Linked DNA regions of Homo sapiens. The protein of the gene in region 3 binds, or shares a complex with, the protein of the main gene of each other region. Each region holds a gene or a part of one and is shown on either strand. Other genes may lie near its edges. The genes, in order: PCNA, RNASEH2A, RNASEH2B and RNASEH2C. A codon is read from its position in the direction of its gene.

Region 1 (7,498 bases), on a different chromosome or scaffold from region 3:
GTAGAGATGGGGTTTTGCCATGTTCTTTCTATTTTGGTTAAACAAGGGCTCTCTAGGTACTCTCAAAGTTGCATGGAGTCTGCTTTCTAGCCTTAGTGAGAAGTCTCCTTCCTGTTTAACCTTTGATTCCTACAGCCTGTGACTTTGGCTAAATTGTCACTTAAGGTTGCTCAGCCTGCTTCTCCACCTTTAAAATGGGCTACCAATTGGACCCACAACATGTAAGCTAATATTAGGATTACATAAGTGCTCCAAACAGGTAGACTTTTACTCCTAACCATATCCTTCTATTGAGCTGCTGTCCTATGCTCAATTATTTGGTAAGAGAGTAAGTATCTCCAGAAAGCTAAAGGTTATACGCCTAACTTCCCAATCCTACCCTTAAGAGCCGGTGTGGACTTGATCCATAAACCACTGTTCTGTGGTATGTACACGTGCTGAATTTGTATTCCCTTCTTGCAAATATAATTCTAAATTGGATGACACTTATAAATCATTCGCAGATTTCAACAGTATCTCAATTTTCAGAAATTACTTGGGATCCAATTCTGTCTACTTTTAATTTTAGCAATTAACCTAATAAGCAGTATTATAATTCTCTTCAAACTATTTTCTTTTTACTTAAAAACTACTTACAGCTTCCTCCTCTTTATCGACATTACTTGTCTGTGACAATTTAATGTTTCCATTTCCAAGTTCTCCACTTGCAGAAAATTTCACTCCGTCTTTTGCACAGGAAATTACAACAGCATCTCCAATATGGCTGAGATCTCGGCATATACGTGCAAATTCACCAGAAGGCATCTTTACTACACAGCTGTACTCCTGTTCCTATTAAGAACAAAAATTTTCCAAAAGTTAATTGTTAGAAATTTAATGATTTGGCACCCTCACTTTCTTAAAAGGCAACACCTAAACAACTCAGAATCAATATTTTCTGATTACTTTAAAATATGACTTGCGTAATTTCTTAACAAACTCCACTCAAAAAAATAAATGGCTATTAAATGCACCATCCAGGGAACAAGAGCCTCCTCCTCCTCATCCTCCAGGGATAAAGTAAGAGAACATTAGAGTATGGCACAGAAATCATGATGGCGCAAGCAGGCCTAACTACTTTCTAAAAGAAAGCAAGAGAATATATTAGGCATTTTCAACATTCAAACATTTCTTCTCTCCTTTGGTGTTTATAAACCTAACCTGGATAAATTTCTTCCAAGTCAGCTTTAAAATCCACTTAATAAAAAGCAAGCATTCTAGAAGGAAACAAATTTTAAAAGAGGTTCATGGAAGTTAATGCAAATAGACAACTGGCAGTAAACAATAAATTTAACCTGTGAGTTTTAGACTTGTGGTGAACAACTATCCAAATACTAAAATCTCTCTTTGAAACATGCACCAGTAGATATATTTCTAGAAAAAGTTGTTATGAAGTAGGCTTAAATTATATTAACATATCTTGACGGAGGAGGATCACTTGAGGCCAGGAGTTCCAGACCAGCCTGGGCAAGACTGCCCCCACGCCCACACACAAAAATGAAAAAATTAGCCAGGTGTGGTGGGACAGGCCCGTAGTCCTTCCTAGCCACTTAGGAGACTAAGGCAAGAGGACTGCTTGAGCCCAGGAATCCCAGGTTAGAGAGAGCTATATGGCACTACTGCACTCCAGCCTGGGCAACAGAGCCAAGACCCTGTCTGTAAAAATAAACAAACATTCTATGACATAACTATCGTGCCTGTGTACAGCACTCTCTACAATGAGAAACTGATACTCACTGGAATTCCAAGTTGTTCAACATCTAAATCCATCAACTTCATTTCATAGTCTGAAACTTTCTCCTGGTCTACCAAAAGAAAGCAGATGCTTTTGAGAAATACTGACACAGAGTTTTGATTTTCTGTAGCTTCGTGACTCGGTAAAAAGGTACGACTTACTTGGTGCTTCAAATACTAGCGCCAAGGTATCCGCGTTATCTTCGGCCCTTAGTGTAATGATATCTTCATTGCCGGCGCATTTTAGTATTTTGGACATACTAGAAGACAGGAGACACATGCTTTAAAATCAACGCCGTCTGCTGAAGGGCTGTATTTCGAACGCGGTTAGAAGGGGTTACCACTCTCACCCATCAGGCCGTCTCAGAACTGGTGGAGGGTAAGCGGACTGCTGGAGGATGCCATTATTAATGCAGACGTTTTGGGACGCATCTGGCAGTATTTATACTAAAATACCACCAGCAGTGTCCCTTCTGGATAGAAACAATCTCCTGCCACTAAGTAGGATGACAGGCTGCCACATTTCTCGCAAGGGCATTATAAAGCATTTAAAGTCAACCGCGACTGAGCCGGGAGGATCGCTTGAGCCCAGAAGTTGGAGACCAGCCCGGGCAACACACCGAGACCGTCTCAGAAACAAGAAAGCCACAGCTAAAGCGTCCATTCAAGGCCAACAGGATTTAGTGAGCAAAGAGCCCTGGAACAGTGTTCCTGGCACTGCGGAAAAACCCTTGATTTTCCCGCCACCACCCGCTTTGTGACTTTGGCGCGAAAAAGCAGGTTCGCGCAGCAGCCAGCGCGGGCTTTTCCGAACCGCGCGCTCAGCTGGGCCCCACCCCACTGCGTGGCAGGCCAATGAGAAGGCGCGGATGGCCCACGCCAGCCAATGAGGGCTAGGCTCGAAAGCGCTCCCGCCAAGCACCGGAGGTGCAGGCGGGCCGGGGCCGGCTTCCCGGGGCCGCGAGGCTCACCTGGTGAGGTTCACGCCCATGGCCAGGTTGCGGTCGCAGCGGTAGGTGTCGAAGCCCTCAGACCGCAGGGTGAGCTGCACCAAAGAGACGTGGGACGAGTCCATGCTCTGCAGGTTTACACCGCTGGAGCTAATATCCCAGCAGGCCTCGTTGATGAGGTCCTTGAGTGCCTCCAACACCTTCTTGAGGATGGAGCCCTGGACCAGGCGCGCCTCGAACATGGTGGCGGAGTGGCAACAACGCCGCTACAGGCAGGCGGGAAGGAGGAAAGTCTAGCTGGTTTCGGCTTCAGGAGCCTCAGAGCGAGCGGGCGAACGTCGCGACGACCGGCTGAGACCTAGAAAGACAACGACCACTCTGCTACGCCTGCAACCGTTTAATGCCGCCGCGTCCGCAAGCGCGCGCTCTCACCCTGCGCCGCGTTGCGACGTCACCACGCTGTCCAGCCCACGGCCTTGCGGGGAAGACTTTAGGGCCAATCGTGTCCATGCTCCCCGCGAGGCCCGCCCCCTAGAGCATACATTGGAGGAAGCGGGCGCAGGGCGGGGCAGCGTCGCGCAGGTCTCCCCGCCTCTTTGACTCCTGAACCCGGCCGCAGAACAAGTCCGGGCATATGTGGAGATCGGGTCCCGGTCCCGGCTCGTCAAGCCCCAGCTTTATGGTGGCTCCTCAGCCTCCCACTACGTGGGTAGAAAGTTTCCAGCCACGAAAGTGAAAGTGAAATGCAAATCAAGCCTACCGGGAGGAAAAGCCTCCTTGCAGCCTGAAGAGAGTACAGCTGCTGCAAATATGCACTTTATTTTTCAATTACAGAATTGATGCGCTCGTAGGTGTCACAAGATAAAGAGGTGAATTGTTCTGTTAAACTTAGCTCCCTATCATCCTCTTAACATTCCCCCGCCAGCTCTTATAATCACTCAATCGTTCATTGTATAAAGCTTTTAAAGCTTTTTTAAAAGTTCGAATACACTTTTTTTTTTTCAAAAATGCACTCATTCCGTAAACACTTGGAAAAGTACTTAATAAAGTACATTTAATTTTATGCCACGTACATCTTTTATCATATCAGTACCTCTTTAAAACATAGCATCACATGTATATAACATAATTTATCAATCTCCTGTTGTTTAACTACAAACACCTTTGAGCACTTAGGCAATTTTGGTGATATCAACTCCTTGAAGTAATACAGCTGAGTCAAAGAGCGTACACATTTAATATTTTTTCTTTTCTTTTCCTTTCTTTTTGAGATGGAGTCCTGCTCTGTCATCCAGGCTGGAGTACAGTGGCGCGATCTCAGCTCATTGCAACCTCCGCCTCCCAGGTTCAAGTGAGTCTCCTGCCTCAGCCTCCCGAGTATCTGGGATTACAGGTGCCTACCACCACCCCCGGCTAATTTTTGTATTATTATTATTATTTTTTTTTAGTAGAGACGGGGTTTCACCATGTTGGCCAGGCTGGTCTTGAACACCTGACCTGAGGTGATCCACCTGCCTCGGCCTCTCAAAGTGCTGGGATTACAGGCGTGAGCCACCACGCCCAGCCAGAAATTTTCAATTGTTACAGGATGGACAGGATTTGTTGTTTCTCTCTTGCTTTCTTCACACCACTTCTCTTTAGTTACTTTTAATACCTTGGTCAGCAGAATTCTTTAGTTTTTCTACCATGTATCTAGGTATGGAGTTAGTTTTATTTGTCTTGTTGAGGGAACTGAAGATTCATTTCAAGTCTGACATATTCTCAATCATTATGGCTTCAAATATCTCCTCTCCTTAGTCTATTCTTTATCTCTGGAATGCCTTTCTTTCCTTTTTTTTTTTTTTTTTTTTTTCCTAGTTCAGCTGTGACTCCATACAAGGTTCTAAGATGAGTTTCACAGTCTCTTCCCTGGATTTTGTGGAGACTTAACTTTACCCTTCTGTATCAGCCTCTTAAAGCACTGGGTCAGCCTTAAAAGGGAACAGGAAAGGGCATTTCTATTATAAGATGCCTTCAATTGTAATATGTACCATTATTTTATGTAGCACAAGCAAGAAAACTGTCAAACTTTTTTTTTTATTATTTTCTAGAGAGGGGAGTCTCCCTTTGACACCCAGGCTGGAGTGCAGTGGCAAGATGACTACTCACTGCCACCTCCAACTTCTAGGCTCGAGAGATCCTCTTGCCACCTCCCAAATAGCTGGGACTACAGGGGTGCACCACTGTACCTGGCTAATTTTTAAATGTTTTTGTAGAGAGAAGGTCCCACTATGTCGCTCTGGCTGGTCTCCAACTCCTGGGCTCAAGCAATCTTCCCAATCGGTCTCCCAAAGTGTGAGATTACAGGCATGAGCCACTGTGCCCAGCCTCAAACTGTTACACAATGCTTTATCACTTAGAATTTCTTTTTTTTTTTCTTTTTCTTTTTCTTTTTTTTTTTTCTGAGACAGAGTCTCACTCTATCACCCAGGCTGGAGTGCAGTGGTGTGATCTTGGCTAACCGCAATCTCCGCCTCCTGGGTTCAAGCAATTCTCATGCCTCAGCCTCCTGAATAGCTAGGATTACAGGCATGCGCCATCACACCTGGCTAATTTTTGTATTTTTAGTAGAGACGGGGTTTTGCCATGTTGGCCAGGTTGGTCTTGAACTCCTGACCTCATGTGATCTGCCTGCCTTGGCCTCCCAAAGTGCTGGGATTACAGGCATGAGCCACCGCGCCCGGGTCTATTTTGTTTTAAAAGAACTTTTAGACTTTAAAAACATTCTTATTATATATTACTCTTGTGCAAACATGAAAAAATTTAAGCTACATTGGTTAAGGCATTCCTACTGTTTCTCCACTCAGTTAGTTGCTGATTCTGCTGTTTTTCTGTATAATATCCTACTCTGTGTTGTCAAGGGTATTGATGATGCAGTATTTTTCAATAGTGCTATTCTATTGTCTCTGGAATTTCTTGCAAGCCTCTGCTACTCATTTGTAAGTTTTGATGTTGGCACTTTCTTGCTTTATGTGTGATGGACTACCCATTTGCATACATCTCAATATCAAAACATAATACAGCATCATCTGTTTGTGGTTCTTTTCCTTTCTTGGGTCCGTTAAAATCTCAGTTCCTTTGCAAAATGTGGAATGTGTTCCTTCCTCCAGTGAGGAACATTTGCTTCACTAAAAACAAATGCATATGCTCCACTACTCTGTTTCAGTTCTGTCTGCTTACATAATAACATTTTGGTTTAATGCCAAATTACATGTAATAGATTTGAAGACATTTTAAATGACAAACTCTATCCATGGGGGATCCACCATGTACATCAATCTGTTTATTTCTGCTCTATTACAGAAGTGATGTCCTCCTAAAAGTGTCAAATGATAAAGAGGTGTACAGTTACGTAAATTTTATGTTAAACTGAAATGAGGACATAAACATGCCTATGACTGTGGTCAGAGAAGGCCTCTCTGAGGAGGTAGCATCTTATCAGAGAAGACAGCTGCTTGGAGAGTTGGAAAAAAGCATTCTAGGCTGAGAGAATAGCATGATTATAAAGGTCAGCATACTTGGAATATATTCAGACAAGTTTGATGTAGAACTCAGACTGATGTGTCTGAAGCAAGAGTGGTGCAAGGTGAGGTTGCAGAGAGGCTGGGGTGAGCTCTTGCAGGACTTTGTAGGCTCTCTAAAAGTGCAAGGGAATGTGGTCAACAGCAGATCTTTGATGTGATCCAATTTACATTTTAAGTGGCTACTCTAACATCTAGTAAAGGTACTATTGGATCAGTGGGAGAAAGAATGAAGTAAATTTTGATCAGATAATTGGTTAAACTATTAGAAAAGAATAAAAGCTGTAGACTTTTCTGGATGGGCGCAGTGGCTCATGCCTGTAATCCCAGAACTTTGGGAGGCTGAGGTAGGTGGATCATCTGAGGTCAGGAGTTCGAGACCAGCCAGGCCAACATGGTGAAACCCCGTCTCTACTAAAAATACAAAAATTAGCTGGGCGTGGTGGTGCACACCTGTAATTCCAGATACTAGGGAGGCTGACGCAGGAGAATTGCTTGAACCCGGGAGGCAGAGGTTGCAGTGAACCAAGATTGCGCCACTGTACTCCAGCCTGGGTGACAGAGCAAACCTCCATCTCAAAAAAAAAAAAAAAGACTTTTCCTAATAATTATTCACTAAATTCTAGATAAAGAATTCAAATTCAAATCTTGACCCAATAAGAAATGGAAAAATATTTTGGTAAATATTTATGAGATCTTCCTATGGGCTTCCAAACATAAGAAAAAAACCCATAAAACATAATGAATAACCATACAAGTTTTAAGACTTCAGTATGCCTCAAAGGATTATATTGGTTAGTATAGTTTAGGTTTCAGTGACAGAGAACTCAACTTGAATGGATTAAGAGAAATAGAAAATTTATTCATCTAAACAAAAAGCCAGAGGTATCTGGCCTCCACTGTCCAGTCCTAGTCTTCATAAACGTGAAGTTTGTTAGCCACATTAATAAGCAAAGAAATGTAAATTCAATGGAGACAGAATTTTAACCTACCAAATTAATAAAAATCATGTTAACACCTGGTGTGTTAGGAAGGATTCAAGGAAGTAGGCACTTAAATACATTGCAAGTGGGAGTATACATTGGTATAATTTTTCTGGTGGAAACTTAGAAATGTGTATCAAAAGCCTTAGAATTTTACTTATTCTTTGACACAGAAATTCGATCTCTAGGGTTTTTTCCTACAGAAGAAATCAGGGGCATTTACCAAGATCAA
Region 2 (7,416 bases), on a different chromosome or scaffold from region 3:
GGAGTTTGAGGCCAGGCTTGGCAACACAGTGAGACCCCATCTTTATAAAAACATAAAATAAATACAATAAAATAAAGAAAAAACTCACCTCCTGAAGAGGCTTTCTCTATCACGCTGCTTTTACTCTAACTTATTTAGCACCTACTGCATGCCACATACTGTTCTAGGAACTGAGGTGGCAGAAAACACTAGAAAAAAATTGGTAGAGTGCGTTAGCACAAGCCTGTAATCCCAACACTTTAGGAAGCCGAAGTGGGAGGATCGCTTGAGGGCAGGTGGTTGAGACCAACCTGGGCAACATATGGAGACCCTGTTTCTACAAAAAATAAAAAGTTAGCTAGGTGTAGTGGTGAATAAAGGCTTGAAGGAGGTGAGGAAGTGAACTGTGCAGAGATCTGGGGAAGAGGGCTCTAGGTGTGAGAACAGCCAGTACAAAGGCCCTGAGCTGGGACCAGGTTCATGATGCTGGGCCCATGCATGGGGGCCTTTGGCTGCAGCACCGAAGAGAGGGTCCAAGAGCTGCTGGGGGAAAGTGGTATCTCCACAGCACTACTGTTTTCAGAAACAACCTTTATTTTTTGTTTACCAGCTGACCATCTTTCATGTTTTATTTTTTTATTTTTTATTTTTAGTAGAGATGGGGTTTCACCATGTTGGTCAGGCTGGTCTCGAACTCCTGACCTGATGATCCGCCCGCCTCGGCCTCCCAAAGTGCTGGGATTACAGGCGTGAGCTACTGCGCCCAACCTCCAGCTGACCATCTTTCTGCCCAGGCTAGGCCCTGAACGCCTACGGGTAGGGCCCTTGTCTGTCTACACCAGTTACTGTATCGCCAGCTCTGCATTTGGGCCTGGTCCTCAGGTCCCTCCTCAGCAGGGTCTACCTTGCTATAATTCCTTTCTTTCTTCTTCTTTTTGTGGAGATGGAGTCTCGCTATGTTGCCCAGGCTGGTCTGGAACTCCTAGCCTCAACCAATTTGCTCACCTCAGCTTCCCAAAGTGCTGGGATTACAGGCGTGAGCCACCATACCCAGCATACAATTCCTACGTCAAGGTTATTTTGCCTTGTTATTCTCTCAGAACGGTCCATTCTTTCATTGAGAGCATTCGAGGCAATGCTGATTTATGTTTTTCTCTGGTAATTTAATGTAATTCTGCCCCACTCGACTGTGAATTTTCCTGATTTAATTTCCACTGTGATCGGAAAACTAAATGTCGAGATGTGCATTTCAAAAAGACTACCTTCTGTTGCTGCTTGGGGAACAGATTGGAGGGGATAGGAGGGTGAGGGACGAGAGACGACACTCAGCAGGTGTCCAGGGAGTGGGGGGTGTCCTGGGCTAGGACAGAGGTGACAGGTAGACAATGTAGGATTTGTTCTGGAGACTGAGCCTTTAGGATGAGGGAGAGATTAGATGGAGACGGGACTAGGGGCTACACTGTGGTCGTCAGTGTGGCACACATTTAGGGCAGAAACAGGAGCACGAAATCAACAGTAGCAATGAATATGCCCGAGGCACTCCAGACGTATCTGATGCTGAATCTGCACACTGCACATTTTTGCCCACATTTATTTTTTATTTTATTTTTATTTTTATTTTTCGCTCTGTCCCCCAGGCTGGAGTGCAATGGCGCGATCTCACCTCACTGCAACCTCCGCCTCCCGGGTTCGAGCAATTCTTCTGCCTCGGCCTCACCAATAGGTGGGATTACAGGCACCCGCCACCATGCTGGGCTAATTTTTTGTATTTTCAGTAGAGATGAGGTTTCACCATGTTGGCCAGGATGGTCTTCAACTCCTGACCTCAGGTGATCTGCCTGCCTCAGCCTCCTGAAACGCTGGGATTACAGCCGTGAGCCACTGCGCCTGGTCTCCCATTTTTAGTTTATTTTTTATTTTTTATTTTTTTGAGACAGGGTCTTGCTCTGTTGCCCGGGTTGGAGTGCAATGGCACAATCTTGGCTCACTGCAACTTCTGCCTCCTGGGTTCAAGCGATTCTCCTGTCTCAGCCTCCTGAGTAGCTAGGATTACAGGCGCCTGCCACCACGTCCAGCTAATTTTTGTATTTTTAGTAGAGACGGGGTTTCACCATGTTGGTCAGGCTGGTCTCGAACTCTTGACCTCCGGTGATCTACCCGCCGCGGCTTCCCAAAGTGCTGCGATTATAGGCGTGAGCCACTGCGCCCTGCCTCCATTTTTGAGTTGGGGGGCTTCCTTTGTCACCCAGGATGGAGTGCTGTGGCATGATCATGGCTCACTGCAGTCTCGAACTCCTGTTTTGTCCCCATTTTATCCTGAGATGACCAAATGGGGACAACTTACAGTTAACTCACCTGGGTGACGTTCACGCCCTGGTCCAATGCATACTGTATAAGCCCAGTGGCTGTATCATGTGACAGGGAGTTCAGGTTGTATTTGACCCTGTGGTGGGGAACAGAGCCCAGTTAATCTCATTCTAGGAACAAAGCTTGGTCAGCCCATGCTGGCTGCCCCTCCCGGGGACCCCTCACCGCCCAAGCATGCTGGTAGAGATGAGGTTTGGAGACAGCACATCCAGCGCCCAGCCGACAAAGTCCGTGTCCTCCATTTTCGCAAACAGCCTTTCCCGCTCGCTCTCCAATAGGGTCTTTGAGTCTGGGAGGAGGTTTGGAAGAGAAGGGGAACAGCTGGTTCTCCCAGTTCCTGCCCTCCCCTTTCAGTTCTCACCTGCCCCTGCACATACCCAGGAATCCCTTCCCCAGACGCACACCTCGGGCTCACCTGCCACTTTCAGCGCCTCCAGATCTGCCAGGCGAGGCAGGGGACAATAACAGATGGCGTAGACCATGGGGCCTGGGGAGAAGGGGTGTCAGTTTTCTGGCAGCCGGGGTCCAATCACTGAGCCCGTGAAAGTTGCCATTCATCCCTGTTCTATCATCACTGCTTCTTTAGGTGCCATCACCACGACCACATCCCCTCCCTTGGTGCAGTGCAATCCCGACTCCCGTTTCCCGCATCCTCCGTACCACGCCCCTCCCCTCCCTGGCCCTAGGGGCGCACCCAGCACGGGGCCCCTGCCCGCCTCATCGACGCCCAGGACGCAAGGCTCCTTGCGGCACACCGCGGGCACAGGCGAACTCAGGCGACAGCGGCCTGTATTGTCTCTCTCCAGCTCGCTGAGATCCATGCCGCCTCAGCCGCCACCACCAGCTGCAAGAACTAATACTGCAGGAGCGGGTCTCGGCGCGCGTTTTCCGCGGGCCTCGAAGCGGCGCCTGCTTCCGGCCAATCCGCGGGCAGAACACGCCCCTGGCGCTCCCGCCGCCGTGGACGCTTACGCAGCCGACGCCGACGTCGCTGCCGTGCGCCCTCCTGGGAATTGTAGTCCCGAAGGGCTATGGCCGAACACTCAGCTTGGGGAATTCGGTGGACGGGGTCACTTTGCAAGCTCTGCTTCACGGTCTCTGGGGCCCCGCCTGCGTGGCCCGGTGGGAAGAGGGGGAAATAAGAGGGAAACTGAGACGTAGCTTCGAAGACCCAGCCTAACGGGGAACTAGAGAGTCAAATATCACCCCACTCCCAGGACACGGGTCACCGCATCACTGGGTCCCCAACTGCCACTTGGATTCAGGCCCTGTACTTGCGGTCCCTGCTTCTGTACACATTCTAAGTCCCCTGGACCAGGTAGCCCCGCTTCCACTAAACCCAGGCTTTTGGATTTGGAGTCCCCAAACTCCCTCTCTTGGTTGCTCCCTTCGGCCCACCTCCACTCCGTGCAAGATCTGTGCTTCCTAACCTCTGTCTCATTCAGGCCAAGCCTTCCCCACCCCCGTTGGAGATCACAGACCTCGGTGGACTCCTGCTCAGGGTCTCTGCTCCCTATAGAAGCTCATTCCTCCCAACTTAGAATGAATGTCCCCACCCCCACCCCTCGACCCACTTTTTTTTTTTCTTTTTTTTTTTTTTGAGACAGAGTCTCGCTCTTGTCGCCCAGGCTGGAGTGCAATGGCGCCATCTCCGCTCACTGCAAGCTCCGCGTCCCGGGTTCACGCCATTCTCCTGCCTCAGTCTCCCGAATAGCTGGGACTACAGGCGCCCGCCACCACACCCGGCTAATTTTTTGTACTTTTTAGTAGAGATGGGGTTTCACCGTGTTAGCCAGGTTGGTCTCGATTTCCTGACCTTGTGATCCGCCCGCCTCGGCCTCCCAAAGTGTTGGGATTGCAGGCGTGAGCCACCGCACCCGGCCTTCTTTTTTTTTTAGACAGGGTCTCTCTCTGTTGTCCAGGCTGGAGTGCAGTGGCGCGATCTTGGCTCACTGCAACCTCCACCTCCTGGGCTGACGCGATCCTCCCACCTCAGTCTCCCAAGCAGCTGGACTACAGGTGCACACCACACCACCATGCCCGACTATTTTTGGTATTTTTTGTAGAGACGGGGTCTCATTATGTTGCCCAGGCTGGCTTCAAACTCCTGGGCTCAAGCGATCCGGTCGCCTCAGCCTCCCAAAGTGTTGGGATTACAAGCCTGAGCCAGCCACAGTGCCTGGCATCCACCACTTCTATTCCCTGGGCTCACTGGGGCTCATGTCCTCTGCCTGTGGGTTCCCGCCCCTTACCAGGCTCATGCCCCTTCCTCAGGGTCCTAGTTCATTGTCTCTTTATCTCCTTTTACTCCTCTTCGCCTCCCCCTCCACTTTTTTTTTTTTTTTTTTTTTTTTTTTTTTTTTGAGACAGGATGTTACTCTGTTGCCCAGGCTGGATAGCAGTGTAGCGATCTCGGCTTATTGTAACCTTTGCCTCCCAGGCTCAAGCGATCCTTCCTCCCCATCGTACCGAGTAGCTGGGACCACAGGCATGTGCCGCCACGCTCATCTAACTTAAATGTTTTTGTTTGTTTGTTTGTTTGGTTGGTTTTTTTTGAGACAGAGTCTCGCTCTGTCGCCCAGGCTGGAGTGCAGTGGCGCGATCTCGGCTCACTGCAGGCTCCGCCTCCCGGGTTCATGCCATTCTCCTGCCTCAGCCTCCCGAGTAGCTGGGACTACAGGCGCCCGCCACCGCGCCCAGCTAATTTTTTATATTTTTAGTAGAGACGGGGTTTCACCGTTTTAGCCAGGATGGTCTCGATCTCCTGACCTTGTGATCCGCCTGCCTTGGCCTCCCAAAGTGCTGGGATTGCGGGCGTGAGCCACCGCGCCCGGCCTAATTTTAAAAATTTTTATGGAGAGGTGATCTCAACGATATTGCCCAGACTAATCTTGAACTCCAGGACTCAAGAGATCCGCCTGCCTCGGCCTCCCAAAATGCTGGAATTACAGGCGTGAGCCCCGGCGCCCGGCGCCCCCTCCACTTTTCTCCTTTTCTCCCTAGATATCAGCGGGGCTCACGGCTCCTGACTCAGCTTCCCCCTAACCAAATCAGCCTCAAGTCACTCAAGACTTGGAGCCCCAGTTCTCCCTTCCTCAAACTCGCTTCATACCCGCCCCGCACCGCACATCCTCCCTCCGCGCCCACCCTGGGCCCCGCAACTTGCCCCGGCCCTGCTCTCTCACCCGGGCTCAGAGCCTCCAGTCGCAGTCGAAGGGCTTGCAGGATGGACAATCCCGTTGCCGGCAGGGCCGTAACTGGATCAGCTTCTCCGGGTCCATGAAAACCGGGCCCGGCGCTGTGCCCACTACCTCGCGGCTGCGCTCCTGCTTGCCCAGGTCGCAGAGACACCGCCACTTTCCCCACGGGCCAAGGATTGAGTCCTCGACTTCTAGAGAAGGAGGGCAGAGGTGAAGACCTACGTGGAGGGGGCCTACTCCCAATCCCCTCCCCCAGAGAGGGAGAAAGATAAAGATACTAACGAATAAGAGAAGCACATATTCGCTAGACTCTGCTTCTATGCCAGACACCCTGCCACAGATTATCTCATTTAAGCTTTTTTTTTTTTTTTTTTTTTTTTTTTGAGACAGGGTCTCGCTCTGTCGCCCAGGCTGGAGTGCAGTGGCGCAGTCACAGCTCACTGCAGCCTCAACCTCCTGGGCTCAAGCAATCCTCCTACCTCGGCCTACCAAGTAGCTGGGACTACAGGCACATGCCACTGTGCCTGGCTAATTTTTTGTATTTTTTGCAGAGACGGTGTTTCACCATGTTGCCCAGGCTGGTCTGGAACTCCTGGGCTCAAGTGATACTCCCATCTCAGCCTCCCAAAGTGCTGGGATTACAGGTGTGAGCCAGCCACCATGCCTGGCCTCATTTAATATTTCCACGAGTCTCAGGTGGGGAAACCAAGACCCAGAGACAGCAAGCCAACCTTCCAAGCTCATATACGGGGTAAGTGGGCCAGAGGAACTACAACCTGACACTTCCAGGCTGTGCCAGCCTGCCCAGTTGTGAGTGTCCTACAACATCCTTGGTGCCCGCCATTTGAAGCTGACTTCTGTCTTCAGGGGTGTGACCATGGCCCTACCTAGAAGGCACAATGCCACCTGACAGCAGGGTTGTCAAGTGATAAATGGCATAATTGACATAATGAAGGTAAGTAAATCTCCCGGTGCTGTGCTAGCATATACAAACCAATTTATTATGATCAGTTTGTTTATTTATTTAATTTATTTATTTTGAGACAAGATCTTGCTCTGTTACCCAGGTTGGAATGCAAGGGCATAATCATGGCTCACTGCAGCTTCAAACTCCTTGGCACAAATGGTCCTCCTGTATCAGCCTCTTGAGTAGCTGGGACTACAGGCGCATGCCACCATGGCAGGCTAATTTATTTTTTATTTTTATTTATTTATTTATTTTTGTAGAGTAGGGGGTCTCTCCATGTTGCCCAGGCTGGTCTTGAATTCCTGGGCTCAAGCAGTCCTCCCGCCTCGGCCTCCCAAAGTGCTGGGCCATCAAGTCAGGCTAATTTTAAAATATTTTTTGTAGAGATGGAGTCTTGCTGTGTGGGCCAGGCTGGTCTGGTCTCCGAGACCAAGGGATCCTCCCACCTCAGCCTCCCAAAGTGCTAGGATTATAGGCGTGAGCTACCGCGCCGGCCACTGTGATCACTTTAAAGGGCTCTTTACTGAATCTGCCCCTTTCCCCTATGAGACAGATCTTATCCCAACTCCGATCTTATCCCAACTCACCGCTCACCAAGGTCTGACACCTCCTACCCTCCCACACCCATGTCTCTGCCACACCTCACCGACCTCTTTCCATTTCTCCTTCAGGACTTTTCACCTTGGCATTTGCTATTCCCTCTTCCTTGGACATTCTTTCCCCAAATCTTTCCATATGGGACTTTCGCTTGTCGTTCTCGCTGCACTGGTCACGGGTCTTCTGCAATCGGACCCTCTCTGATTTCCCAAGCTTGCCCGCCCCCTTCTTTCTCTGTCTCTGCCCTTCCTGGCACCTATCCCCGAGTGACAGCTTCAGTGTCCTGCCCACACCCTCTCTTCCCCT
Region 3 (7,537 bases):
AAAACAAGTTTGTATCCTATATTTCATGAAAAGTGTTAATAGCCTTAATTTAGAATGAGCTCATACAAAGCAACAGAGAAACATTACTATCTCAACATAAAAACAGGCAAGCGACAGGAACCAACAATTTGCAAAAATGCAAATGGGCCATAAGCATTTGGAAAAAGAACCTTTCTAGTTAAAGAAATGTAGCCTAATTTGACAGGCAACAATGTTCAAGAATAAAAGCAATACTCAATGTCGTCAAAAATGCAAGATAAATACTCATTGGCAATAATGTTTGGAAGCACAACTTTCTCCATTTTTGAAAAGCACTTTAGCTATATATATTTCAATTATGAAAGAATTCATGTTCTCCAAGCTCTTAGTCTTAGTTCAAAATTGTGTCTAATGAAATGATTGGAGATACAGACTGTAAATAAGAATGTCTATCACTTCAATAAAAACAAAAAATAAAAAAATCAGAAGTAACCTATATGTCCAAATATAGGGAAATGATTAAATTACATTCCATATGGTGAAACAAACACCCATGACTGAATATCATAAAAACATGAATATTTTTTCAAAGAATGTTTAATGATATGTGAACATTTTCACAATTTAATGTTAAATAAAAAGCCCAGAACTGAGTATTATAATGCCAATGTTAAAGGCCACATATGTATTTATAATGCATGTATAAAACTAAGTAAGGACTGTTACCAAAATGCCATTTGCCAGGGTGAATGCTGAATGGTGAAATTATTAATTTTTATCATCATAATTTCTGCTTCTGGGCAGCAGGGTTGACAAAAAATTACCTGTAGAGCTTCCTCCCTCCTTTCCCACCCTATCACTCTATGAATACATAGCAAAATTTAGGCACACTCTTGATAAGTAGTATATTGTTTTTCTCTGACTAATAATAAGTCTTAGTTGCTTAACATTTTCATTGTCATATGCAATTCTTAATTATTAAGTCACAGAAATGCAAGTTAATAATTCTTCCTGGTCAAAACTGTAATCACAATCAAGCGTGCAACTGTTCCTCATGTATTCATGCACATCACGCACTGAGTATGAACGAAACACCACTACACCTGAACCCACATACCTTTTCAGTCTTCAAATCTTTAGTATTAAACTTAGTGTAATCTTCTTTTGCTTCTACAGGCTCATCTGATAACTTTATTTTCTGCAACATTAGAGCAGTGAAGTGGTGTCAAATGTCACTTTGACACAACATCAATCCATTAAAAAAAAACCCAACATGTATAATTTAGACCTCTACAGAGGCGAATGGGACAGCAGACCCAGCAAAGGGCTTACTTTTTACAGGCTCCTTTACATTTTGCCAATCATCTAGGGAATTGAGCCACACATCACTCCTAAGAAGCAGCCTTGGTGATGGTGGATATGATTGGGTAAGTACATGGCTGAGCCCCTTAGCTGGTCCAGCAAACACAGGCTTTGTAGGTGCCAGGTGTGGTGGGCATGAGGGGATTGCTAATTACCAGATGAATGCAAGGCACAGAAGTCAAAATGAGAATAGTCTCTTGAAGGGGGCCAGGTGTCCAGCCAGAATCCCTATTTCATTTACCTCCTGGGCCAGTTTAATGTCCACTTATGAATGAAGGGACAATATTTATCTTACTTTATCCATGCAAGAACAACCTTGCACAAGCAAGCAGCCAGTAAGAGAGGGAAGCACAGAGAGGCTAAATGAATAGCTTAAGGTCACCAAGTAGAGGACTTTGGCCAAGATTTCAATTCTGATACAGTGTTCTTTCCATTAGGCCCAATGCAACTAAGTCAGACCTTTACTTAATATTTTCTCCTTTCACATGAACATTTTACACCAGTGAATGTGAGAATCTTGTCAAGGCCTTAATGATCACAATATAGAAGAAATCATGCCACACTTATTATGTAAAAGGTACAAAAGCAGGGAAGACAAGTCTTGCTGTTGAACATGGAGAATTGACTGCATGGTGATCACAACCCAGATTTTTATAATTTTCAGGCTGTTTATGGAGACACCAGGTTGACCAGACCCAACATGGATCTAACCTAGGAAACAGACTTCTTCCCAGCTTCATTCTTCATGCCCCTGCTTTGCTAAACAAAGAACGGGTAGAGTTGGTGCTAAAAGATTCCACAGCCCATGGTGTTTTATCCCATAACCCAAGAGGATAAAACACCATGTCTTAAAATTGTTTGCTGTAAAAAAACAGAGGCTCATCCTGGGAATATACCACACACTATAGGAAAACCTCTTGGCCACACAGCAACCTCTAGCAAATGAATCATTAAAAGAAAAAGACTAATCCATCACAAATGAACCACCTATCAGCACCAAGTGAATGTATATTTGCAACTTTGTTAAGAATATATGTTTCAGCTTGGTGCAGTGACTCATGCCTGTAATCCCAGCACTTTGGGAGGCCGAGGTGGGCGGTCACTTGAGGCCAGGAGTTGGAGATCAGCCTGGCCAACATGGCAAAACCCCATCTCTAATAAAAATATAAAAATTAGCTGCGCATGGTGGCATGTGCCTGTAGTCCCAGCTACTCCGGAGACTGAGGCACAAGAATTGCTTGAACCTGAGAAGCAGAGACTGCAGTAAGCTGAGATTGTGCCACTGCACTCCAGCCTAGATGACACGGCAAGACTCTGTCTCAAAAAAAAAAATACATGTTTCTATTTAAATTAAGACAGCAAAGGGTGTTTAGGTGATGCACATTTTTTACTAGAAAGGTATCTTCAGCTAGGAGGGTGAAACTCACAGCTAATAATGCTGAAGGCCAAAATATTTTCAAAACACAAAAAGCTTGAAGTTATGAGGATGCTTGTGTTCCTTCTCTATGGCAAAATGTTCCTAACACAGATGTCATTATAAACACTTAGACATTATTCCCTTTTTTTCTTTAGAGACAGGGTTTCACTGTGTTGCCCAGGCTGGAGTGCGGTGGCTATTCATAGTTGCGATCATCATATACTACAGCCTTGAACTCCTGGGCTCAAGCGACCTTCTGCCTTAGCCTCCTGAGTAGCTAAGACTACAAGTGTGTGCCACTGAACTGATGAGGTTCACTTTTCATTGATAATTCAAATAAAAAGTGTTCATTACAAGAACTTAAGATGAAAGGTACTTTTGTATGGACATAAAATGTTTAATTGGAGAAATGACTTGTTCAGGTGTTTTAATAGCTCACAACAAAACAAGATACCAGTTACAAGTGTTTAAAAAAAGAAAATGATTGTGGTAGCCTCTACATATAACTAGTTTGTATGTTATTCCCAGTGCACTGTTGAATATATTGGAAAAAAAGATGATTGAAGCATTTACTAAAATTTTTGTTATTTAAAAGACCAAATCCCTATGGATTTGGGAGATTGTTTCAGCAGAGAAGTGGCTCAGAAAGACAGTAACAAAGGCTATGACTAAATGGATACAGTTCTGGAAAGAGAACAAACTGCAGAGTACCACAGGGATAATGTTAGGCCTTCTTACAAATGATTTGCAAGAAGGAACTCGGGAACATCTCCAAACCCACTGGTTGCATTCAACTCTGCTTGCTGACAGTGACAAATTGAAAAGACTGGAGCAAGTGAGGGTTGGAAGCTGAGTTTCAACAAAGGCAGACATATGATAGTAAAGGAAAATAATATAAAACATATTAAAGATGACAGGCTCCACGCTATCGATTACAACATAGATACAAAGATACCTAATGACTACTGGAATATATTTCCTGGAAACAGTCAACTATATTACTGTAAAAATCAATCAAATCCTGGATACAGACAGGAAAGCTAGCAGAAGATATGTTCTACGCTTGTTTAAACGATGGTACATCGTCTAGTATAGTTTGTCATGTGTACACTGGAACCCCAGAAAGACACAGAGTAGAAGACCTCGAAAAGCAACTCAAATAATATAGAAGACAAGGCTGGGGTTTAGGAAGAGCAAGATGCCAAAATCAAAATCAGGGCTTGGCAAATGATGGCCCAGGGGCCAAATCCAGCTGGCTGCCTGCTTTTATAAATGAAGTTTTACTGGAACACAGCCATGCTCATTCGTTTATGTATTATCTGTGGCTGTTTTCACAATACAACAGCAGAGTTGAGTAGCTGCAATAGAGTCCATCTGCTTCATGGAGCCTAAAATATTTACTGTCTGGCTTTAGAAGAAAAGGTTTGCTGATCTCTGATCTAAATCATAAATGATGAAGTCACAAACAACTTAAATTCTGAAAATTAAAATAAGAAAACAGAAATCAGGAGCAGAGAAGAATAAAGTTATGAAACATATTACTCCAAAAGGTATCCAAGGTTAAAGCTTTCAAGAATAGGTTTAGATCAATTCATGAATGATCTCTAAGTTACTAAGGAAGATAGATATTTGGGAGAAAAAAATCTGCTTCATTTTTGGATGAAGAAAAATAAGAAGCACGCTGAGAACCTACCCTCTTAGTTTCAGCAAGACAACTGTGCCTCTCTAGGTCCTCTAGAGCTACTGTCAGAGATTAACTACCGGAATGAAAGACGCATGGGTCTGGCCTAGAGCAGTCCTTAGATCTTACAGCAACAGACTTCTGCCCAGTGCTATTCTCCAAGAGAGTAAAACATGCATTTTTTTTTGACAACATGCTGAACATAGGCCCAAACAAACACTGCTGTACTTTCAATTTTCTGTCCTTTTCTAAGGACAATGTCTTTGGAGCCACCACCACCTTTATACAGGGAATGACATAAAAAATTATGAGCATTTTAGCTACCTTGAAGGCCAAGAAAACAATGCAAGGGAGAAGGAAAGTTTGTAACATCCACAATATGTCCATTTTACATTCTCAAGGCATCCGTTACTTTGCTGGCTGAAGAAATGACCTCACTGACAAGCTGGTGCACATGTTTATTTCCCTGTCTTGGAGCAGAGTTTAACTCATCTGAGATCTGGCCTGGGCTGAAGGAACGCTGCAATTTGCAGTCAGGTGTGGTTTATGATTGGCTTCTCCATTCTCTGGATCTAGGAGATAAACATACCAGCTGCAGAGGAGCTGTGGGTAGCAGCCTGAGAATGAATGAGGAAAAGATTTTCCACTAACAAAGATTACACGTAAATTCATCAATCATTTCAAATTCAGAAAAAAAGTGATCATCTTTGCTCAAAGGATTCTTTGTATTATGGAAATTGTTTTCTGTTCACCTTTGTGCCAGTGACAATTAGATTTGGCAAAATGAGTTTTAGTTATATATAGAGTATGCTTAGTGATTACTAAATTTAATTAAGTGATCTAACTAATGCAGGAAGATTTAATTTTAACTATATGTCTTTAATATTTTCACAGGGGTACCTTGCTAAAACCAACTCTTCTTGGGTTTTCATGGCACTTTATTTACCATTCAGGTGGAATCCACAAAAATAAAAAATAGTGATGGAGAGCCCAGTACAATCTTTATTCCACATGGCATCACTCCATGCAAAATGGATTTAGTACACCTTAAAATATATTAGAACCAACTAAACTCATGTGGTAAGAGTGTAATATTTTTCTAAGTCCCCCAAAGATATCTTAGTCACAGCTTCTTACCTTTGATGGAGGATTTGGCAATGAGGCTGAAGGTTCTGGAAGCCTAAGAAAGTTAAAAATAACAATCAAAGTCATCGTTTTTCATAGACAAACAAACAGAAAGACAGGGCCAACTTAAGACTTAGTAAGTCCTACTTTTCAACTTACAGCTTTACCTCCATATATCTTCCTGTTCAATCAACTCAGTGTAAAGAATGAAAGTTTTCTCAATAAATGAGTCTTTATTTTGATATGTAAGTCCTTGTTTTGGTGTTGTCTGAACTAAAAAATAAAATTAGAACCCATCTGTTGGAACAGAGTTCCTTTTCTTTAGCCTCTATAAATTTGTGTTTCGGTGTTGGAGTATTTTTTCTTCATAGTGAAGATGCTAACATATATTTAAAGGTGAAAATCATTTTAACTGTTCACAAAAAGCCACATAAATTTCAACTTTTCTTCCATTAGAAAGCAGTTTAATTGGCATACCTTTCTTCTGAACTCTTCAACCAAAACTTAAAAATGTTAGTGGAAAGAAAGGAATCTATACAAACAATGGAGTACAAAGACATGAGGTCTCTAACAAGACAAGCAGCATAGAAATCTGGGGATATATTAAGCAGAAGGATATGATTATCAATTTGAAGCAGGCTTTCAGCACACTTTAACTATTATAGAAACCAGTTTCCAATCATTGTTTTTTAAAGTAGGACCTCTGGAATTTGCTAAAACCAACAACTGTATCTATTAAAAAGTCATTTTATCTTCATGACTCAGAGGATAAAAAGGATTTATAAGGATCAGGAAAAGCTATTAAATCATCACACACATAAAATCTTAACAACAAAATTAAGTAACGATTTTGCAAAAATCTAGAAAATAAACACTTCTAACACTTCTTTTTCAACTTAAAGTCTAAATGTATAAGCTCTTTATAAAGAAAGGAACATACATTAAACCATTCTTAAAACCCTTCTTCTGCCCCTCAAAGACACAGATTGTGTTTCATATTACTTTGACTTCCAAGTCTTTGGCATAAAGTCCCTTTAGTGAACATCTAGTGATAATAGTGAAAATGATATCAATATTTTGTAAATTAAAAAAAAGTCTATATTCCATCTACTCTTTCCATCCCTCCTTTCTTCCTCTTAAAACGATCACAAAGAACCAAATTAGTTAAGTATAATTGAGGATAAAATTTTAACATAGTTAATCCTCTAAAATCAGACCAAGCCATAATTCCAATCTTGACATTCACTAGTTCCTGCAATCCGTATCCATCAAATCAGTTCATTCCAATCATCCATTAAAAATCATCCCCAAAGCACAAAGTATATGACATAGCTGAAGAATAATCTTGTATCATAAACAGTGATATGATAAGCCATAAGGAAACCCCACTGCTGGGGAAACCAAGAAGCAAATGGTACTTCATTATGACTGAAGATAATCAATACTCACTTTAAGTATTTAGATAAGTCATCACTTAATTCTTTAGGGATGTAGTCAGATATCAGACCATGGGCATAACGAATATAATCCTCTGAAAGAAACAGAAGGAGGAGTGAAAGCAAAAAAAAAAAATAGTAATTATGGTGGTTTTATAGTCAAATTGACCTGAATTCAAATTCTGACCCTATCTGGATAAAGGGAACTCACTTAAGCTCTAGCCTCAGTTTTCTCATTTGTAAAATGGGGATAGTAATATCTATCGGTCAGACTAGTGGGAAGATATGAGGGATGAGATATGACATGTGATGATACCAAAGATATAAGATAAAACAAGTATAATACAGTAGATGCTCCCTAAATGACATTAAAAACAAAAACTCAGGGTTGCTTTCTTATTTGAAACCACTGAATACAAATAAAGTTTAAAAATCATCTACAACAATATGAAATAGTCATGTCTTTTTTAAAAGGGTAATCTTTTCTAAGCCTGCTTCAATAAAGAATAAATCTAATTATTCAACAGTAATGAGTGT
Region 4 (7,774 bases), on a different chromosome or scaffold from region 3:
CTGGTGAAGACACAGAGGCTTTACCTGATCAAGGTTATGGTCCATTCGAGAAATTTTATTGGTTAAATGATGCCCAGATGGGGTCACATCCTCAGAACTTCTCAGCCTGGTAGCACAAGTGGATGCTTGAAGAAACTCAGTCTTGGAACTCAGACAGCAATGGAGACGGGATGTGAGTGGGACCAGCAAGGGGCTAAGGTCCATTATGAGGGTGAGGAAGGGCTTCTAGAAGTAACAAACATCCCAGGTCCCTGACTGGGGAGAATGAAGACACTGACCAAGAGATGTGAAGCCACTCAGGGCTGTGCAGGGTCTGAGGATCTCACTGGGGACGGCCTCCCAGCGGCCAGCTATCAGCACGAGTTGGAGGGAAAGAGCCATGGTGGGGGTCAGTCACGTGGCTCCCAGGAATGGTCTCCCCGACTTAGGAAGCACCTTGGTGCACCTTTTCTCCTTGCATCCTCACAACCACCCAGTCAGGCCACTCAAGTCTTACAGCAGGTGACACTCCCAAGGTCCCAGCTAGGAGGACTTTGAGAATTCAAGCATTCTCAGGTCTGGATTAGAGACAGGAATCTGTCTCCACTTCCTTACATGGCTAGACACAGAGCCCGGGATGGCAAAGGAAAATTGGAGGCCCCTTCTTCCCATGAGCCATTTTCTCTGCATCCCCTGCCCATAAGCCTTCACTGGCCTCTGATCACCCTCATGGTTGACTGCAGCTGCTCCTCTCAGTGCCCTCATGCCCTCCACTGTGCTCAGCGCACGGAAAGAGTGAATACTCAGTTCTTCCTGAGGGAACTGAGGCACAGAGAAGTGGAGGGCATAGAACTGCCAAGTGGCAGGGCCATGATAGGAACTAGGCAGCCTGCCTTGGCAACCTGTGTTTTTAAATGTTGCTTATGTTCATCTGTGACCTCTTACTCACCCTCTCCTGCTCCATTGCTTTAGGCTATGAACTCTCCAAAGTGGAAGGGAAAACAGGGACCCCTGAGAAGCCCCTCTCAGACCTTGGCCTCCTATCCTATCGAAGCTACTGGTCCCAGACCATCCTGGAGATCCTGATGGGGCTGAAGTCGGAGAGCGGGGAGAGGCCACAGATCACCATCAAGTGAGCCTGGCGCTGTCTACCTGGGGGTACATGGCATGGCTTGTCTGTTCCTGGGCTTTCTCTCTCAGGGCTCCTGGGGACAGATAAAGGTCCTCAGGGAACCTGACCTGTGCTCTCCCACAGTGAGATTAGTGAAATCACCAGCATCAAGAAGGAGGATGTCATCTCCACTCTGCAGTACCTCAATCTCATCAACTACTACAAGGTAGGGAGGCAGGCAGGGGAGACAGGTGTGTGGGATGCAGAGTGCAGTCCTCTGTGGGCTGACCACCTGCTGAACCCATCTCCTCTGCCCAGGGCCAGTACATCCTCACACTGTCAGAGGACATCGTGGATGGCCATGAGCGGGCCATGCTCAAGCGGCTCCTGCGGATCGACTCCAAGTGTCTGCACTTCACTCCCAAGGACTGGAGCAAGAGGGGGAAGTGGTGACCAGACACTGCCCACTGCAGTGCCAAGACGGCAGCAGGACTGGGGCTGATAGCCCACCCCGCCCCCACTGCAGCTCCCACAAAGCACTCTAAGGGAGATGGGGCTGAGGACAGCTCAAAAAGGAGAGGACAGGCCTGGCAGGGGCCCACTGGTGCCCAGCACCAAGGCGAGCTCCGGGCTCAGACCAACTCCAAGGTCAGCTGGCCACAGGCCCAGGCCTCCTCTGAAGCAGGGACCAGAGGGAGCCAGGCAGCTGTGTACAGTGAGAAGGGATCCGGATGGGGGAGCTCTGTACAGAGGGCTGGTGATTGTAAAAATTTCTTTTGTAAAGTAGAAGTTGGGGGTGGGGTGGGTGCTGGCTGCAAAAATTTCTGGCTTCTCTTACCCCTATTGCCCCCGGCAATAAATTGTTTCTATATGCCAGAGCCATGCAAAGTTCTTGGTGGGGAGGGGGAAAGGGCCCATGCTGGCTTAGGGGCTCTAAGGCGCCCAGACTCACAGGTGCTGTGAAGAGCTCCTTTATTGGGGTGATGGAATCGGTTCCAAAGAGCTGGTTTACTGCTGTGAAGGGATCGCAGCTTTGAATTTCAAGCTCTGGTTCTCAGTCCTCGGGCACCTGTGCGTGAATCTGCAACAGGAGTCGCCTCTACTGTTGGACTTGTAAGACAGGGCGGCAAGCTGGCCCCCATACCCGAGGAAGGACCCAGCTGTTCAGAATAACCGCTTCTAGACATGCTAGGAAGAGTGGTCAGGGAGCTACGCTTCCCACACACTACCCAGTAGAATCCTCCAGGCTCCGTCTGCGCAATTGTGCTCCCCAGCCCATCCACCCGGGGGCAAGACGGAACTCCTCGTCTACTCACCGCTGCCGCAAGGCTGGGCCAAGTTAAGGCCCCACGCACTTTGGCATCCGGGCCAGGGATGGTCTCCAGACCCCACAGGGTGAAGCGGCTGAAGTTGGCAGTGGCTCCAATGAAGCGGTCCTGGGGAAGGGGCCTGGCTCAGCATCGGGACTACAGCTCCCGCCCGCACCCCCTTTCAACCCTATCCCTTTGCTCACGAAGTCCCGCTCCAGCGGCTCCTCCTCTTGGTCGTCAGTCCCGGAATCCCGCAAGGGGTCTGGCTTCCCCATCGACACCTTCTTCTCTTCTGTCACCATCACGTATCCCACGAGGCCAGGCGGCACCGCCACCTCCTCTCCCCGTAGACAGCGGCCCCGAAACGACACTTCGAGTCCTGGAGCGGGAGGCGCAAAGGGCCTCAGGCAGGACCCACGCTGGGTCGAGCCCGGAGCTGCCCTCCCGCCACCTCCGGACGGACCACGATCCCCAGGAGCCCAGGCGATGAGAAGCGCGCAGGCCGGCGCGGGGGCTGCCGGGAGCCGTAGTCCGGCCGCAGGGCTCACCCTCGGGGCCCTGGCGGATGGCGGGCGTGAAGAAGCGCCCCACCGGGGCGGGCCCGTCCACCGCAACCTCGCAGGGCAGCAGATGCAGTGTGGCGGGTACGGCGTCGCGCAATGTGGCGGAGCGCAAGTGGACGCGGTGCCTCTCGATGGCCGCTTCGTCGCCGCTCTCCATCCTCCCTCCTACGCGACGCCAGGGCTCGCGAGCTGACACTGAAGCTGGCGCGGAAAGCGCGCAGGACCTCTCAGGAAGCCTCCGCGGGGCCTCACGGGAAGCCGCCGCGGAGCTTCACGGGAAGTGTAGTCCCCTTACCCCCTAACGCTTTCCCTGGGTTCAAGTCCTAGGGTTTTCCAGTTGTGTTTTGTTTTTTTCCTTCCTTCCTTCCCCCCTCCCCTCTTTCCTCCCTCCCCTCTCCCCCTCTCCTTCCCCCTCCCCCCTCCTTCCCCCTCCCCCCTCCCCCTCCTCCCTGCCTCCCTTCCTTCCCCCCTTCCCTTCCCTTCCTTCCCGTCCTTCCCTCTTTCTTTCTTTTTCTTATTTATTATTATTTTTTTTTGACAGAGTCTCGTTTTGTCGCCCAGGCTGGAGTGCCAGGCACGGTCTCAGCTCACTGCAACCTCCGCCTCCCGGGTTCAAGCGATTCTCCTGCCTCAGCCTCCGGAGTAGCTGGGATTACAGGCGCACACCACCATGCCCACCTAATTTTTGTATTTTTAGTAGAGACTGGGTTTCGCCATGTTGGCCAGGCTGGTCTCGAACTCCTGACCTCAGGCGATCCTCCAGCCTCGGCCTTCTGAAGTACTTGGATTACAGGCGTGAGACACCGCCCCCAGCCGGGTTTTTTTCTTTTATTGTTTTTAATGGCACATGTCGTTGTAAAAATCTAAAACGATTCTGAAAAGTACTCTTTTTATATTGATTAGTAGGTAGGTTATTCATTTTTAGTTTATTAGGGACATCAACCCTTTTCTTAAATGCATTGAAAATGTTTTATCTGTGGTCTGTCTTGCAAACCTGTGTAAAGGTGATTTTTGCTGGACAAGGACTTATTTTTGTGGTTGTTTGGTCTTTTAGACAAGGTCTCACTCGCCTAGGCTGGAGTGCAGTGGTTTGATTGGCTCACTGCAGCCTCGACCTCCCAGGCTTAATCCATCCCCCATCCTCAGCTTCCTGTGTAGCTGGAACCACAGGCCTGCGCCACCACGCAGCTAATTTTTGTATTTTTGGTAGAGGTGGAGTTTTGCCATGTTGCCCAGGCTGGTCTTGAACTCCTGGACTCAAGTGATCTGCCCACCTTGGCCTCCCAAATCACGCTGGAATTACAGGCGTGAGCCACTGCACCCAGGACAAAGACTAATTTTTTGTAGTCAAATTTATCAACACTTTTCAGTCTTTTAGATTTCACAATTTTCTCTCTTTGGTTTCTCAGCTCTTCTCTAATGTTTATTTGTTCAGACACCCAACTTAGATATATTTTTTCAAGTTCTCACATAAAACAAACACAAAACTGGAAATTTAGATTTAAATTGCGTTTAATTTATACATCCCTGCACATCTGGGAGCTGGCCTTGGTATTCTGTTGAATATAAACAATTTCAGAGAACATCAGCATCGGACAAGGTCACTCTGTGACCGTGAGGGAGCAAGACAGAAACAGAACCACTCCATCGTCACATCTGAATGCTGGCAAAGGTGAACACTGTCCAAACCACAAAAGGCATGAAACATCCCTCTTTCTCCCATAAGAGAGTGACTGTTGTTTCCTTACCAATTACAGCATTAGCCTCCAACTAATCTTCTCTCCTTCTGGGCAAGACTCATTAAGATAGTCCGTCATAGACATACCCCCACCTCTGACAGCATCCAAGCCAGAGAGAAGCCTGGCTTCCCTAAACCCTGACTGAAATCACTGAACATGGGCACAAATCCTCCTATAAGTCCTTTCTAGCACCCTCTTATTGAAATTCCCCAGAGTGCAGGAGTAATATACCCAATTTGTTCAACTGCAGATGTATTCCTGGTGCTCTTTCACTAGAGTGGCAGATTAATTTAGAAAAAGGCTTGCTTTAGTTTTCTATCAGGAAAGACATAATTCAATTTATTCACATCTCCTTGGATATCTGTACAGTTGTGAGGTTTTGTTCATATATAATAGCTATTAATACATATTGTAAAGTTTATTTCTTCTTAGCTTATATTAATAATTGTTTCTATTAAGAACTGAGGGGCTGGGCATGATGATTCACACCTGTAATTCCAGTGCTTTAGGAGGCCAAGATGGGGGAGGATTGCTTGAAGCCAGGAGTTTGAGACCGGCCTGGGAAACATAGCAAGACTCCGTTCCTACAAAGAAAAAAATTTTTTTAAACATGAGTGGGGCACAGTGGCATGTGCCTGTAGTCCCAGCTACTCAAGAAGCTAAGGTGGGAAGATCACTTAAGCCAAGGAGTTTGAGGCTGCCGTTCGAGTCACGATTGCACCACTGCACACCAGCCTGGGTTACGGAGGGAGACCCTTTCTCTAAAAACCAAAATTGGGGCTTTTATTTTTTTCATTTTATTTTCTAACTGATTTTCTTTTTAATCTATAGCAGGGGTTGGCAAACTTTTTCTGTAAGGGGTCAAATAGTAAATATTTTAGGTTTTGTGGACTTTATGGCTTCTGTCGCAGCTACTCAACTTCACCGTTATAGCATGAAAGCAGTCATAGACAATACATAAATGAATGAGCGTTGTTGTGTTCCAGTAAATCTTTGCAGAAACAGACAAGGGGTTGGATTTGAACCACAGGCCATAGTTTTCAGACCCCTTGTCTATAGCAAACCTGTTGATTTTTATATGTCCATTTTTAAACTAGATATCGACTGAATTATTTTGTTCCTAATGATTTTTATTTTATTTTAAGATCCCCAGAATTAGTCACCTCTCTTTCAAATAATAATTTTTACCTCACCATTACATCTTCTTTTTGTTTTTTGTTTTTTGTTTTTTTTTTTTCATTACACCTTGTAATTTGTTTTCTTTTCTAATTGCCTTGGCCAGTACTTGCAGAACAGTCTCTCAAATGTTACTGGTATCAGAGGACAACATTGTCTTTTTCCTGAAACTTTCACGGGAGTGCTTCTGCTGTTTCACCAATAATCATGAAACTGCCTTTTGACTTGTTATATATGTCTCATTAAAGCTGTACTACTAAGAGCTTTTAAAAATTGGGAGTAGATGTTGGATCTTATTTTTTATTTTTATGTTTTTGGTTTTGCAAGTTTCCTGTAGTCTGGATATTAGTAATTGCATTCCTATAGTGTCAAGGTAATCTATACCTGTATTTTCTGTAATTACATCTAGAAGCTTAATTCGATTCTTTGGGGAGGGGAGAGGGCAAGACTACTTCATGGGTGGTTTTGTGTTTTTCCCTCTTTTTGTGAGGTTAGCAGCCATAGATGATCATTGCCTAGATCCTTTAATTCATTAGAGGTTAAAACGCGTGTGTACGCGCACACACACACACACACACACATATTTTTGGGACAGAGTCTCACCTGGTAGCCCAGGCTGGAGCGCGGTGGCGCGATCTTGGCTCACTCAGCTCAACCTCTGTCTCCCGGGTTCAAGCAATTCTCCTGCCTTGGCCTCCTGAGTAGCTGGGATTACAGGCGCATGCCACCATGCCAGGCTAATTTTTGTATTTTTAGTAGAGATGGGGTTTTACCATGTTGGCCAGGCTGGTCTCCAAATCCTTACCTCAAGTGATCTGCTCCCCTCCCTTGGGCTCCCAAAGTGCTGGGATCACAGGCGTGAGGCATGGTGCCCAGCCTAAAACTGATATTCTAAGTCCTCTCATTTCTTCTTCATTTACTAGCTGAAATAGGTCTATAAAGAAAAACTCTCCCCATCAGCCATTTGATTGCCTGTTGGTACAGTGAGGATAAGAAAGACAAAATAATTAGGCCGGGCACAGTGGCTCACACCTGTAATCCCAGCACTTTGGGAAGCTGAGGTGGGTGGATCACTTGAGGTCAGGAGTTCGGGACCAGCCTGGCCAACACGGTGAAACCTTATCTCTACTAAAAAATACAAAAATTAGCCGGGCGTGGTGGCGCATGCCTGTAATCCCAGCTACTCAGGAGGCTGAGGCAGGAGAACTGCTTGAACCCGGGAGGTGGAGGTTGCAGTGAACTGAGATCGAGCCACTGCACTCCAGCCTGGGTGACAGAGCGAGACTGCATCTCAAAAAAATCCTTTTATTTTCCAGTTCTTAAAATAATGATTTGTTGCCCTAGCATATTCCAATGGTGACCTTTTAAAAATGTTAAATAAATATTAAATAAATAAATATAAATAAAAATAATAAATAATGGATTAACACTTTTATGTTTCACATAATTGTGGTTATTATTCTTACTGAGGTGCAAATTTCCCCATCTTCTGCCAGTGGAAGCCTCTTCAAGTTATCTCCTGAATCTTTCGATATGACCCTAGTGATCTTTTATACATATCTTTGTTTTCCAGTACCACAAGATGTTCCTGGCTCATCTTGTACATTTCCTGCCCCAGACTTGGAATTATACATCTCTCCAAAGATCGCTGGTTCCCTTCAGTGGGAAATGATATTTAGTAATCCAATCTGATACTAGATGTATTCATTGCTACTGAGTTAGCCTTTGTTTCTAGATATTTCCAGTGGACAAAGCTAGGAAATACGCATTTTTTTCCTCTCCTTTTTTTTTTTTTTTTTTTTGAGACAGAGTCCGCTCTGTCAGCCAGGCTGGAGTGCAGTGGCACAATCTCGGCTCACTGCAACCTCCGTCTCCTGGGCTCAAGCAATTCTCCTG

Evidence for each region.
Region 1: the proteins of RNASEH2B (region 3) and PCNA are in contact, whole or in part, in a crystal structure (PDB 3P87), measured with the Homo sapiens proteins. Residues at the interface, in NP_078846.2 of Homo sapiens: Asp290, Ser292, Gly293, Met294, Lys295, Ser296, Ile297, Asp298, Phe300, Phe301; in NP_002583.1 of Homo sapiens: Met40, His44, Val45, Ser46, Leu47, Glu124, Leu126, Gly127, Ile128, Pro129, Phe207, Ala208, Asp232, Val233, Pro234, Tyr250, Leu251, Ala252, Pro253, Lys254, Ile255, Glu256.
Region 2: the proteins of RNASEH2B (region 3) and RNASEH2A are in contact, whole or in part, in a crystal structure (PDB 3PUF), measured with the Homo sapiens proteins. Residues at the interface, in NP_078846.2 of Homo sapiens: His16, Phe18, Lys39, Asn42, Gly48, Ala49, Ile50, Val63, Lys64, Val65, Phe66, Lys67, His70, Phe74, Val79, His86, Phe87, Val183, Tyr211 (codon at 7,081), Gly214 (codon at 7,072), Leu215 (codon at 7,069), Asp218 (codon at 7,060), Tyr219 (codon at 7,057); in NP_006388.2 of Homo sapiens: Val227, Phe228, Ile253, Trp254, Glu255, Ser284, His285, Tyr287, Phe288, Arg291, Gly292, Leu293, Glu294, Ser295, Ala296, Thr297, Ser298, Leu299.
Region 4: the proteins of RNASEH2B (region 3) and RNASEH2C are in contact, whole or in part, in a crystal structure (PDB 3PUF), measured with the Homo sapiens proteins. Residues at the interface, in NP_078846.2 of Homo sapiens: Arg14, Gln15, His16, Val17, Phe18, Leu19, Val20, Ser21, Glu22, Leu24, Leu35, Met36, Phe37, Val38, Lys39, Leu52, Glu62, Lys64, Phe66, Glu68, His70, His71, Ser72, Trp73, Phe74, Ile75, Asn76, Gln77, Ser78, Val79; in NP_115569.2 of Homo sapiens: Ile9 (codon at 3,096), His12 (codon at 3,087), Arg13 (codon at 3,084), Val14 (codon at 3,081), His15 (codon at 3,078), Leu16 (codon at 3,075), Ser18 (codon at 3,069), Ala27 (codon at 3,042), Thr28 (codon at 3,039), Leu29 (codon at 3,036), His30 (codon at 3,033), Leu31 (codon at 3,030), Leu32 (codon at 3,027), Pro33 (codon at 3,024), Cys34 (codon at 3,021), Glu35 (codon at 3,018), Val36 (codon at 3,015), Ala37 (codon at 3,012), Val38 (codon at 3,009), Asp39 (codon at 3,006), Gly40 (codon at 3,003), Pro41 (codon at 3,000), Ala42 (codon at 2,997), Pro43 (codon at 2,994), Val44 (codon at 2,991), Gly45 (codon at 2,988), Phe48 (codon at 2,979), Phe63 (codon at 2,765), Val75 (codon at 2,729), Pro77 (codon at 2,723).

Annotation. Positions count from the first base shown.
Region 1 is NC_000020.11:5,116,834-5,124,331, forward strand, and holds the start of PCNA (proliferating cell nuclear antigen), read right to left. Parts: upstream 3,126-7,498; 5' UTR 2,966-3,125; coding exon 2,745-2,965; intron 2,034-2,744; coding exon 1,936-2,033; intron 1,845-1,935; coding exon 1,777-1,844; intron 832-1,776; coding exon 637-831; intron 1-636. UniProt on the Homo sapiens protein: Auxiliary protein of DNA polymerase delta and epsilon, is involved in the control of eukaryotic DNA replication by increasing the polymerase's processibility during elongation of the leading strand.
Region 2 is NC_000019.10:12,802,425-12,809,840, reverse strand, and holds the start of RNASEH2A (ribonuclease H2 subunit A), read right to left. Parts: upstream 3,258-7,416; 5' UTR 3,168-3,257; coding exon 3,041-3,167; intron 2,834-3,040; coding exon 2,762-2,833; intron 2,636-2,761; coding exon 2,512-2,635; intron 2,423-2,511; coding exon 2,335-2,422; intron 1-2,334. Other genes in the region: THSD8 (thrombospondin type-1 domain-containing protein 8 precursor), read right to left, coding at 5,538-5,737. UniProt on the Homo sapiens protein: Catalytic subunit of RNase HII, an endonuclease that specifically degrades the RNA of RNA:DNA hybrids. Participates in DNA replication, possibly by mediating the removal of lagging-strand Okazaki fragment RNA primers during DNA replication.
Region 3 is NC_000013.11:50,947,545-50,955,081, reverse strand, and holds part of RNASEH2B (ribonuclease H2 subunit B), read right to left. Parts: intron 7,096-7,537; coding exon 7,014-7,095; intron 5,620-7,013; coding exon 5,577-5,619; intron 5,057-5,576; coding exon of another isoform or gene 4,973-5,056; exon of another isoform or gene 1,178-4,972; coding exon 1,097-1,177; intron 1-1,096. UniProt on the Homo sapiens protein: Non catalytic subunit of RNase H2, an endonuclease that specifically degrades the RNA of RNA:DNA hybrids. Participates in DNA replication, possibly by mediating the removal of lagging-strand Okazaki fragment RNA primers during DNA replication.
Region 4 is NC_000011.10:65,717,639-65,725,412, forward strand, and holds RNASEH2C (ribonuclease H2 subunit C), read right to left. Parts: upstream 3,161-7,774; 5' UTR 3,121-3,160; coding exon 2,949-3,120; intron 2,780-2,948; coding exon 2,604-2,779; intron 2,527-2,603; coding exon 2,407-2,526; intron 2,172-2,406; coding exon 2,145-2,171; 3' UTR 1,544-2,144; coding exon of another isoform or gene 1,409-1,543; 3' UTR 1,317-1,408; coding exon of another isoform or gene 1,235-1,316; 3' UTR 1,112-1,234; coding exon of another isoform or gene 952-1,111; 3' UTR 35-951; downstream 1-34. Other genes in the region: histone acetyltransferase KAT5, read left to right, coding at 952-1,111, 1,235-1,316, 1,409-1,543.